2 linked regions of the Homo sapiens genome follow. The protein of the gene in region 1 interacts with the protein of each later gene in a pairwise test. Each region holds a gene or a part of one and is shown on either strand. Other genes may lie near its edges.

Region 1 (4,609 bases):
TCCTCCACCCTTCATCCCATTCCTCACTTCCTACACCCACCACCTCCTCCACCCTTCATCCCATTCCTCACTTCCTACACCCACCACCTCCTCCACCCTTCATCCCATCCCTCACTTCCTACACCCATCACCTCCTCCACCCTTCATCCCATCCCTCACTTCCTCCACCCACCACCTCCTCCACCCTTCACCCCATCCCTCACTTCCTACACCCATCACCTCCTCCACCCTTCACACCATCCCTCACTTCCTACACCCACCACTTCCTCCACCCTTCATCCCATCCCTCACTTCCTACACCCACCACCTCCTCCACCCTTCACCCCATCCCTCACTTCCTACACCCGTCACCTCCTCCACCCTTCATCCCATCCCTCACTTCCTACACCCACCACCTTCTCAACCCTTCACCCCATCCCTCACTTCCTCCACCCACCACCTCCTCCACCCTTCATCCCATCCCTCACTTCCTACACCCATCACCTCCTCCACCCTTCATCCCATCCCTCACTTCCTACACCCATCACCTCCTCCACCCTTCATCCCATCCCTCACTTCCTACACCCATCACCTCCTTCACCCTTCACCCCATCCTGCACCTCCCCACCCTTCTTGATCCTTTACAGGCGGTGAGCTGACACCCCACGCCCACCACAGAGACAGGGCGCCATGCTGGTGGGGAATGCAGGATCCACTTTTTTATTGCAGGAAGACTATGTCTAGAGCGAAGGCTACACAGACCCCACGATGGGGGAGTGGGGGCACCCACATGCGGGGGGAGAGGGGGCAGGGGCGGAGTCACAGCAAGCATGGCCTGGCACAGTCCCCAGCACCAGGGATGCCCAGGCAGGATGGGCCAGCAGCCAGGACAGGCTCGGGTCCCCTCCTATTGCAGATGCCCTCTCTCCCCAGGGTCGGGCAGGGCCTGAGGTGGGAGAGGCCTGGAGGTGGGCAGGGCCCCAAGGAGATTGTGCTATCAGGGTGTGTCCCTGAGAAAGGGCCGCAGACCCCTGCCCAGCCTCACTCTCTCCGGCACCTTCAGAACCCAGAAGCTACTGCCAGGACAGGAGAGGAGGCAACATCAGCTGCTGGTGGGCCCTGGGCCAGCCCAAGTTTTGGGGGGACCCAGCTCTGCTCAGACACAATGCCAGCTCTTCTGGGAGCCCGGTCCACGTGCTGGATAGCAACACACACGCACGTGTGCACACTCCCTCTCTCTGAGTGTGTCCAATAAACATTTGTTGAGTAAACACTCACACGAACACAGAGGAAAACAAACATGCTTGTACCAAATCAGACACGAGCAATCTGTTACCTACATAGTCCCACCTGGCCACATGACTACAGAGACACATGTGTGCAATCTCTCTCTCTCTCTCACTGCACAAAAGGGCGTGCGCACACACACACGTTGCTTCCTCACACCCAATAAGACCAAAACCTCCATCTCACCTTCCCTCACTAACTTAGCTGCCATGCTCCGAGCCCCGCTGTGGAGAGACCCACATGGTACAGAACAAAGGGCAGCTTCCAGCCAACAGCCAGCGAGGAACTGAGGCCTTCAGTCTTGCAACAGCAAGGAACTGAATGCTGCAACAACCACATGAGCTTCTAAGAAGCAAATCCTTCCCCGATCAGGCCTTCAGATGAGACCTCTGCCTGGCGAATGCTTTGATTGCAGCCTCCTGAGATCCCAAGTAGAGGACCCAGCCAACCTGCACCCAGGCTCTTGACCCACAGAATCTATGAGATAATAAGCATGTGTTGTTTCTGGTTGCTACATTTGTGGTCATTTGTTACACAGCAGTAGCTGACTGATACAGATTTGGAACCGAAAGTCACATTGCTAGAGTCATGTTGCTATAGAGTGGAACACAGATCGTGTCCCTCAATCAGGACAAACATATTTACAGATAAATGCTCTCAGATAAACCATATCACCCACTCCCCAAAATATAGTCATGCTCATACAGGCACAAAGATTCACACAGACACCTCACACATATCCAGTCTTGCTGACAACCACACACAGGTATCTACAACTACCCACCTCTCTGTATACCCTACACCACTATTACACACACAGACTGCCACAAAAACATATCATCCCAGACAGACACACACAGGTATACACGCAGATGCACTTAGATACAAGTCACCCATCCGCGCACCCCAGGTTGCACAAATACACCATTCCATAGCCACTTCCGTGTATGTTGGACACAACCCTGTGGGGTCACACGAGTGTGGTGTCACTCAGACTCTCTCAAAAAACACCCAGAACCTCATGGCTGCAGGTACACTCGACTCCAGGACGCCACCTTCCCGGGCAGGCCCTGCTCTCTGGGGCACAGGTGGTGGGGAGGAAGTGGGTGGGGCAGACCTCTGTCCGGGGCGCCCTCGGATCCTGCTGGTGCTGGCTCCCATCGGCTGTCCCCCCACGGGGGTGTAATTGATGTATCTCTGGCCGGGGCCCCGGGTACCCCCTCCTGAGCACCCCAGGTCCCCACCCGCCATGCGTTGCTAACGTCTCTGTCTTGGTGGAAGAGGCGGGTCCCGGGTGGGCGGTGTCCGGGAAGCCCCTCCACGCCCATGGTGCCTCTCCAGCGGGGCAGTTGTGCTGTGGATGTGGCTGGTCCCGGGGGTGGGATTCGGGGCTGGCAGGGGCACTGCTGCAGGCCCTGTGGTTATTGCCTGGTGGCCTGAGGCCCATCCCACGGGCCCCACACCCCACTGTGAAGACAGAGGAGAGAGGTGCGTCTGGAACCGGAGGAGTGGGCACAGATCAGAGGTCACGACGGGCCGGGTGGGCTTGGGTGTATGTTAACACCAAATAGGAGAAAAAAGAAAAAAATATCTGAGGCCGATGTGCATTTTCAACTCCCCCCTCCCCCAGAAGGTCACAGTGATCAAATGTGAGGGACAGGACGCGCAGGTCTGGCTGGGGACACCCCAGGGAAAGAGATGGAAACGGGGAAACGCAGCCTCCTCTGGTCCTGGTGGGAACAAGCAGCTCCTCTTGCCAGCTCCCCATCCTGTTTTCCCATCTGCAGGACAAGGGGGCCACCTCCGGCTCTTGGTTTTGGAGGGTACAGACAGAACAGGAGGGTGGAGAGAGAGCAGGGGAGGAAGAAAAGCCCCAGCCCTGCCTCGGGGTGGGCAGGGGCAGCGGAGGGGGGGGCGGTGGCCTCGGTTTCCCCAGCCGAGGTGTCGGAGGAAGGATGAGAGAAGAGGAGGAGGCCGAGGAGGGTGTCGGTGTTGGGGGAGGCAGCGGGGGTCAGTGGGGGTGGGCGGCGGGCAGGCGGGCGTTCCGGGCTCACATGAGGGTGCATTTGCCCTTGACGCGGTCTGTCCTCTTCTGCTTCCCGGAGCGCTTGCCGTCGATGTTGAGGCTCATGTTCCGGCGCGTCTCCAGCGTCAGCAGCTCCTGGAAGAGCTCCTTGACGTTGTAGTTCATCTTGGCCGAGGTCTCCATGAAAGCGCACTTCCACTCCTGGGCCACCGCCTGCGCCTCGCGCGTGTCCACCTCCCGCTGCGTCTCATCGCACTTGTTGCCCACGAGCATCACGGGGATGTCCTCCACGCTGCCCTTGATCTGCACGATGAGCTTGTAGATGGGCCCCAGCTCCTCCAGCGACTGCTTGCTGGTGACGGAGAACACCAGGATGAAGGCGTGGCCCTTGGAGATGGACAGGCGCTGCATGGCCGGGAACTGGTGGCTGCCGGTGGTGTCTGTGATCTGCAGCGTGCACACGCTCTTGTCGCAGCTGATCACCTGCCGGTAGGTGTCCTCGATGGTGGGGATGTAGGTGTCGCGGAACGTGCCCTTCACGAAGCGCAGCACCAGCGAGCTCTTGCCCACGCCGCCCGCCCCGAACACCACCACGCGGTAATCGTTACTCTGTTCCGGCATCTTCCCCGCGGCGGGTGGGCGGCCGGGGCCGGGAGGGCTGGTGCCAGCTGCAAGAACCCCAGACCGAGCCTGTGCAGAGAGGAGGGTCACACGTCAAAGGCCACCCAGGCTTGAGGGGACAGCCCCACGCCCCGGGGAGGGAGGAGGACATGGCGGCTTCTCAGAGGAGGTGGCTGCCGTGCCTCCTGCCTCCTGAAAAGGCCCATTTGCTTGTGGCTGACTTTGCAGTTCTGTCCCACAGGCGGGCGCACAGCCAACACCCTTTGCTTACTTCTCCCTAACAAAATCTGGGGCCTGAGCTTCCCCGGGGGACGCTGAGCTAGGAGAGGCGTGGGAGACGCCGGGATGCCCACGAAACTCCTTCCCCGGGTGTGGGTGTCCCTTCCAGGCTGTGCCAGCTTCCCCCTCTCTTCCCAGTGTGGCAGGGGCCCCTGGAAGCTAGCAGGCCTGGCTTCCACCTCTCGCTCCACACCTGCCTGGCTCTGAGACCTTGCCGAGCCATCATGCCACCCTGAGCCTGTTTGGTGGCTCAAACGGTGCCCGTCTCCAACAACCATGGGTCCCCTGCTCTTCCGCCAACCCAGAGATGGCCAATCCTCATGGAAGCCGCACATGGTCGGGTGTTTAAGATGCATATGTCAGGGCCGCAGCCCTAGGTGTGATGAATCGGTCGGCCAGGGCAACGGCCCTGGGAAC
Region 2 (5,278 bases), on another chromosome or scaffold:
TCATCTATGTTCTAGTACTGGCTCAAGATTGACAGTTAAAGCTTTGTTGTGCTGTTCTTCCCTCCTGTTGTCTCCCTTAGAATGTACTCTTAGTGGGTAGCAAACTAACTTAATAAATAGTGGCCTCTAGGACTAAGATTTAGTAGCAGGAGATAAGCGAGAGTACAGTCTGTAGACTCTCCCATCCACTGCAATGGCACATCAGTGTACCATCTAATTTGGTAGCCCCTGTGATAAGGGCACAGCCTTCTGGTCTTTCCGTACAATGATGAGTACTTTGAATTGCACTTTATTTTGCTGGAGATGGGAGTTCCTAGCATATTAGCAAATTGATGGCTGGCAGCTGGCCTAGATGGTAACTTCTCTCACATTTACGATTTTAGGATGCTTTTGTTAAAATTTTTTCCCTAAAGTCAGACAAACTATCAAATCTCAAACTTTCTATCAGTCAGTCAGTCTATCTTTCTGGAATTAGTTCAGGCAGTCTGGAAACTTCATGGATGCAGGATTCATTCATTCAGTCAACAAATATTTGTTGAACATCAATAGCAAGCCTTATTCTAGGAGCTGGAAATAGAGACAAAATATACAAACAAACCAAATGATGCCATTATAGCTTCATATACTATTTATTAAGTTATTAATATGAACAGATATGCAACATTACAGATGTCTTTCAAAGCCTGTAATAAAATATAGTCCACTATCCAGCCCAGGAGAAAGACAACAAACAGTATCATTCTTATAGTAAGTGTAGCATACGTACTCACAATAGTTCCCTTATTTGGACATCAAAGGGAACAATCAGTCAAGATTCTTTACCTCCATTAGAATTTAACTTTCTTGGATTATAGCTGTTTTAGAGTCAAAAGTCCAACTTAGATTATCCACAGAGATGTGTAGCATCACATGTTGGAGAGGAAGGAGCTACTGTCACCTCCGTGGCAGCCCTTTCTACTGTCTTGCAGTCCTTCTATATCGAAGCCCATCTTGCCTTTTAGGCCAGTAGTGGTCAAATTTGGGTATGGGGAGAAGGCAGGTGGGTCACAGGGAGGTTTTGATTAATTTACAAAGATTGTGTTTCAAAGCTCTAAAAACCCATTTGGTGGTGGCAGTGGCAGTGAAGAGTACACTATATTTCGCCAAGGGGGTCTTCTCATCTCTTGAGTCTTGGCTTTCTCATATCCTTTAAAATTGCTGCAGTTCTCAGTGGGAAAGTGGAGGTGGCAAACTCTAACAGCGATTGGTATGGGGCCATCTGCAGAATGAACTGGACTGGCTACTATGGCTTTTATAACCTGCTTTCCTTTCTTTAGTCTAGACAAGCTTATTTCTTCATCTTTCCACCTACGTCCTGCTAGTTCTAACATAAGATTTAAAAGGACTATGGAAGATAAAACTTCTCACTTTCTAGCTGAATGATGAAAAACAGCAAAAAAAAAAAAAAAAAAAAAAATTCCATTCTTCAATGAACTATACTCAATTTCCTCAGTTGAAAACAAACAAGCGCCAAATGAATTTTAAAGACAAGTGCTGGATAATGCTGATTAACTGGTAGAAGTAGTTCCTGAGTGAAACAGCGTATGTATCAGAATCTAAAATACAAGCAAAACCCGAAATGCTCTGTAATAGGGATTGTAATAGTGATTCTTCAACCCCTTAGTTTCACACTGAAAACTACAAATGTTTTTCAATATCAGGCTATTGATAATAGTCAATTAAATATGGAATCAGAAACCTCAGAAAGTCTTGCCAAGTTTGTGGCAGTTTCAATAGTCTAAAAAGGAAAAAGGAGAAACCAGAAGTTAAAGAGTAAGAGCATTGGAATTTTATTTAACTCTAGGTACCATGGATTTGACATCAGTAGGAAAGACTAATGAATAAGCAGCCATACAACTTTTTTGGTCACTGTGCTTCCCAAGCACCAAAAAATGGAGCTATTTTTCCAATTCAGTTTCATCTTTAATAAGCTAGACAGATCCTGCTGCATTCTTTGTTTCTAGTTTACCAGTACATCATTATGTAGTTTACTGCATGTGTGGAGCAAGTCATTATGTAGTACCAAGTTTACATCATCATAGGACTACAACATGCACATTCTACTTAATGTAGCTCAAGCAACAGGAATACAAGAGAACGGTTATGGGTGGAGACTTGCCTTTGACAAAGTCATGATCACACTAACTATAGGTTTAGAAATCTTATTAGGGAGGTACCTACAGCGGTTCTTCAATTGGTATTAGAACATCACATGCATGCACAAGTGGTATGGTAGAGAATGAAGCGGAAGAAGCCGCTGGATGGAGGACAGAGGGGAAATTAGAGATGGGATGATGCCGTGTATCGGGCAGTTCTCAGCTTTCCACAGTAAGTCTCTGCTCTGTGAGAGAGGCCTGCTGGGCAACACTTTTGTTCTCATGACTGCGAAGTTTGGATACGACATCTAGAAAAGCCAAATCCTGTACTTCCTTGTGTAGACATTCTGGAAGACAAAAAAATAACAGATATGATTCTGTTAGGTTGTTCTAAGTCTATCCAAAACATATACCAAAATGTTTATTTTGACAAGACTAAGCTTATAAAACTAGAAACAATTCTGGAAAAAGACATAGCAGTAGCCTAGCAATGTCTTTCTTAGAAATGTATTATAATTTAAAAAAATCATAAAAACTTTACTTTTTTTTAAATTAAAGGAAAAAATTTTAAAGATGGGGACTTGCTCTGCTGCCCAGGTTTGAGTACAGTGGCATGGTCACAGCTTACTGCAGCCTCAAACTCCTAGCCTCAAGGGATTCATCCTGCTCAGTCTCCCAAGTAGCTGGGATGACAGTCATGAGCCACTGCACAGCTACTTGCCCAATTTTTAAAAAGAAAAACGAGACGTCAAGTTCTACAATGTAAGATTAATTACAATAATGAGTTATAATTAAACACAGCTCACTGTATGATCTCAAGGTTTGGTTACATACAACCCTATCACCAGTTCAAATATGAAGTCCAATGACTTACCAAAAAGCTTAGGATATGTTTCAAATTAATTTTGTGGCAAAAGAAAAGTTTATACTTCATATCCTTCAACAAATTTCTGTGACACTGGACTCCCTTTTAGATTTTTTGTCCTCTTCTTTCTGACTTGCTTTCTCTATTTAACTTCAATTACAAGAAAATATAGGATTCCTGTTAGGACTCTGAGAACTGTTATATGGGATGAGTGAAGTCTAATAAGCTTAATGTAATCAGTACTACTGAAACTGATGTGTTTATTTTGATATGACTGACATAAACCAATGAACCAGTGTTTTTAGTAGTAATAGAAAAATCCATCCTAAAATTCATATGGAATCTCAAGGGACCCTAAATCTCCAAAACAATCTTGAAAATGAACAAAGCTGGAGTTCTCATACTAACTGATATCAAAACTTACTACAAAGCTACAATAATCAAGATAGTGGGGTACTGGTACAAAATCCTACAACTTGGGCCAGGCGTGGTGGCTCACGCCTGTTATCCCAGCACTTTGGGAGGCCAAGGTGGGTGGATCACCTGAGGTCGGGAGTTTGAGACCAGCCTGACCAACATGGAGAAACCCCATCTCTACAGGTGGTGCATGCCTATAATCCCAGCTACTCAGGAGGCTGAGGCAGGAGAATCGCTTGAACCTGGGAGGTGGAAGTTACGGTGAGCCGAGATTGCACCATTGCACTGCAGCCTGGGCAACAAGTGCGAAACTCCGTCTCAAAAAAAACAAAACTCTTACAATTCAACAACAACAACAACAACACCCTTCAATTCTAAAAATGGGCAAAGACTTGAATAGACATTTCTCCAAAGAAGATATACAAATGGCCCACAAACACATAAAAAGATTCCCATCAGTAATCATTAGGGAAACGCAAATAAAAACCACAGTAAGATGCCACCTCACACTCATTAGTTTGGCCATTACTAAAACACAGCAAATATTGGTGAGGATGTTGAGAAATGATAATCCATGTGTACTGCTGGAAGAAATGTACAATGGTCCAGCCACTGTGAAAAAGAGTATGACAGTATTTAATTAGTAAAAACAGTATTTAATAAAAAAATTAAACATTGAATGACCATATGATCTAGTAATTCCACTTCTGAGTATATATCAAAAATAATTAAAAGCAGAGGCTCAGAGATATTTGCATACCAATGTTCACAGCAGCATTATTCACAAAAGCCAAAAGGTGGAAATGGCCCAAATGTCCATGGATTGATGAATGGATAAACAAAATGTGATATATACATATGATGGAAAATTATTCAGCTTTAAAAGGAAATGAAATTCTGACACGCCTACAATGCAGATAAGCCTTAAAGACCTAAGTAAAATAAGCTAGACAAAAAAGGACAGGAGTTTCTTATTCCACATATATGTGGTGACTAGAGTTGTCAGATGATGGAGACACAAAATAAATGGTGATTGCCAGAGGCTGTGGGGAGGGGTAAATGGGGAGTTATTGGTTAATGAGTACAGAGTTTCAGTTTGGGAAAATGAAGGTGGTTCTGGAGATGGATGCTGGTGATGATTGCACAGCAATGTGAATGTCCTTAATGCCATTAAACTGTATACTTAAAAATGGTTAAAACAGTAAATTTTATGTTTTGTATGTTTTACCACAATTCTAAAAATGCTTAAACAAATGGAAGAGACTCAAAGTCTCTGCAAGGAAATAAAAGATATAAAGAAGAAGCAAATGGAAATTTTTAACTAAAATATATAACTGAAATAAAAACAGGTTCAACATCAGAATAGAGGGGACAAGGGAAATAATCAGAGAACTTCCAAGATAAAACAATAGAAATTACTCAGTCTGTACAACAGAAAGAAAATAATCTGTGGGTAAAAAAGAACAAAACCTCAGGGACCTACAAGACTATAATTAAAGATCTCACATTAGTGTCAACAAAGGTCTGGAAAGAGTGGATAGAATGGGGCTGAAAAGTACCTGAAGAAGTAACAGTCAAAACTTCTCAAATTTAGCAAAAGACATAAACCTATCAATTCAAGAAGCTGAGCAAACTCAAACAGGATAAACCCAAAGAAATCCATGCCAAGACACATCATAGTTAAACTTCTGAATACTAAACGCAAAGAAAGTCTTGAGAGACAAAAATGAAACCTTACCTACAGGGGAATAAAACACATAAGAACACAATGGATTTCTCATCAGAAACCAGGGAGGCTAGAAAAAAGTGGCACAATAGTTTTCAAGTAAAGAAAGAAAAGAACTGTGAACCCAGAATCCTA

Evidence for each region.
Region 2: the proteins of DIRAS1 (region 1) and RAP1GDS1 interact in binary tests that used the Homo sapiens proteins (3 or more experiments, as listed by UniProt).

The regions. Positions count from the first base shown.
Region 1 is NC_000019.10:2,713,894-2,718,502, forward strand, and holds the end of DIRAS1 (GTP-binding protein Di-Ras1), read right to left. Parts: exon of another isoform or gene 4,419-4,609; coding exon of another isoform or gene 4,386-4,418; intron 3,983-4,385; coding exon of another isoform or gene 3,914-3,982; coding exon 3,317-3,913; 3' UTR 674-3,316; downstream 1-673. UniProt on the Homo sapiens protein: Displays low GTPase activity and exists predominantly in the GTP-bound form.
Region 2 is NC_000004.12:98,439,194-98,444,471, reverse strand, and holds the end of RAP1GDS1 (rap1 GTPase-GDP dissociation stimulator 1), read right to left. Parts: intron 2,483-5,278; coding exon 2,355-2,482; 3' UTR 614-2,354; downstream 1-613. UniProt on the Homo sapiens protein: Acts as a GEF (guanine nucleotide exchange factor) for the Rho family of small GTP-binding proteins (G proteins) that stimulates the dissociation of GDP to enable subsequent binding of GTP.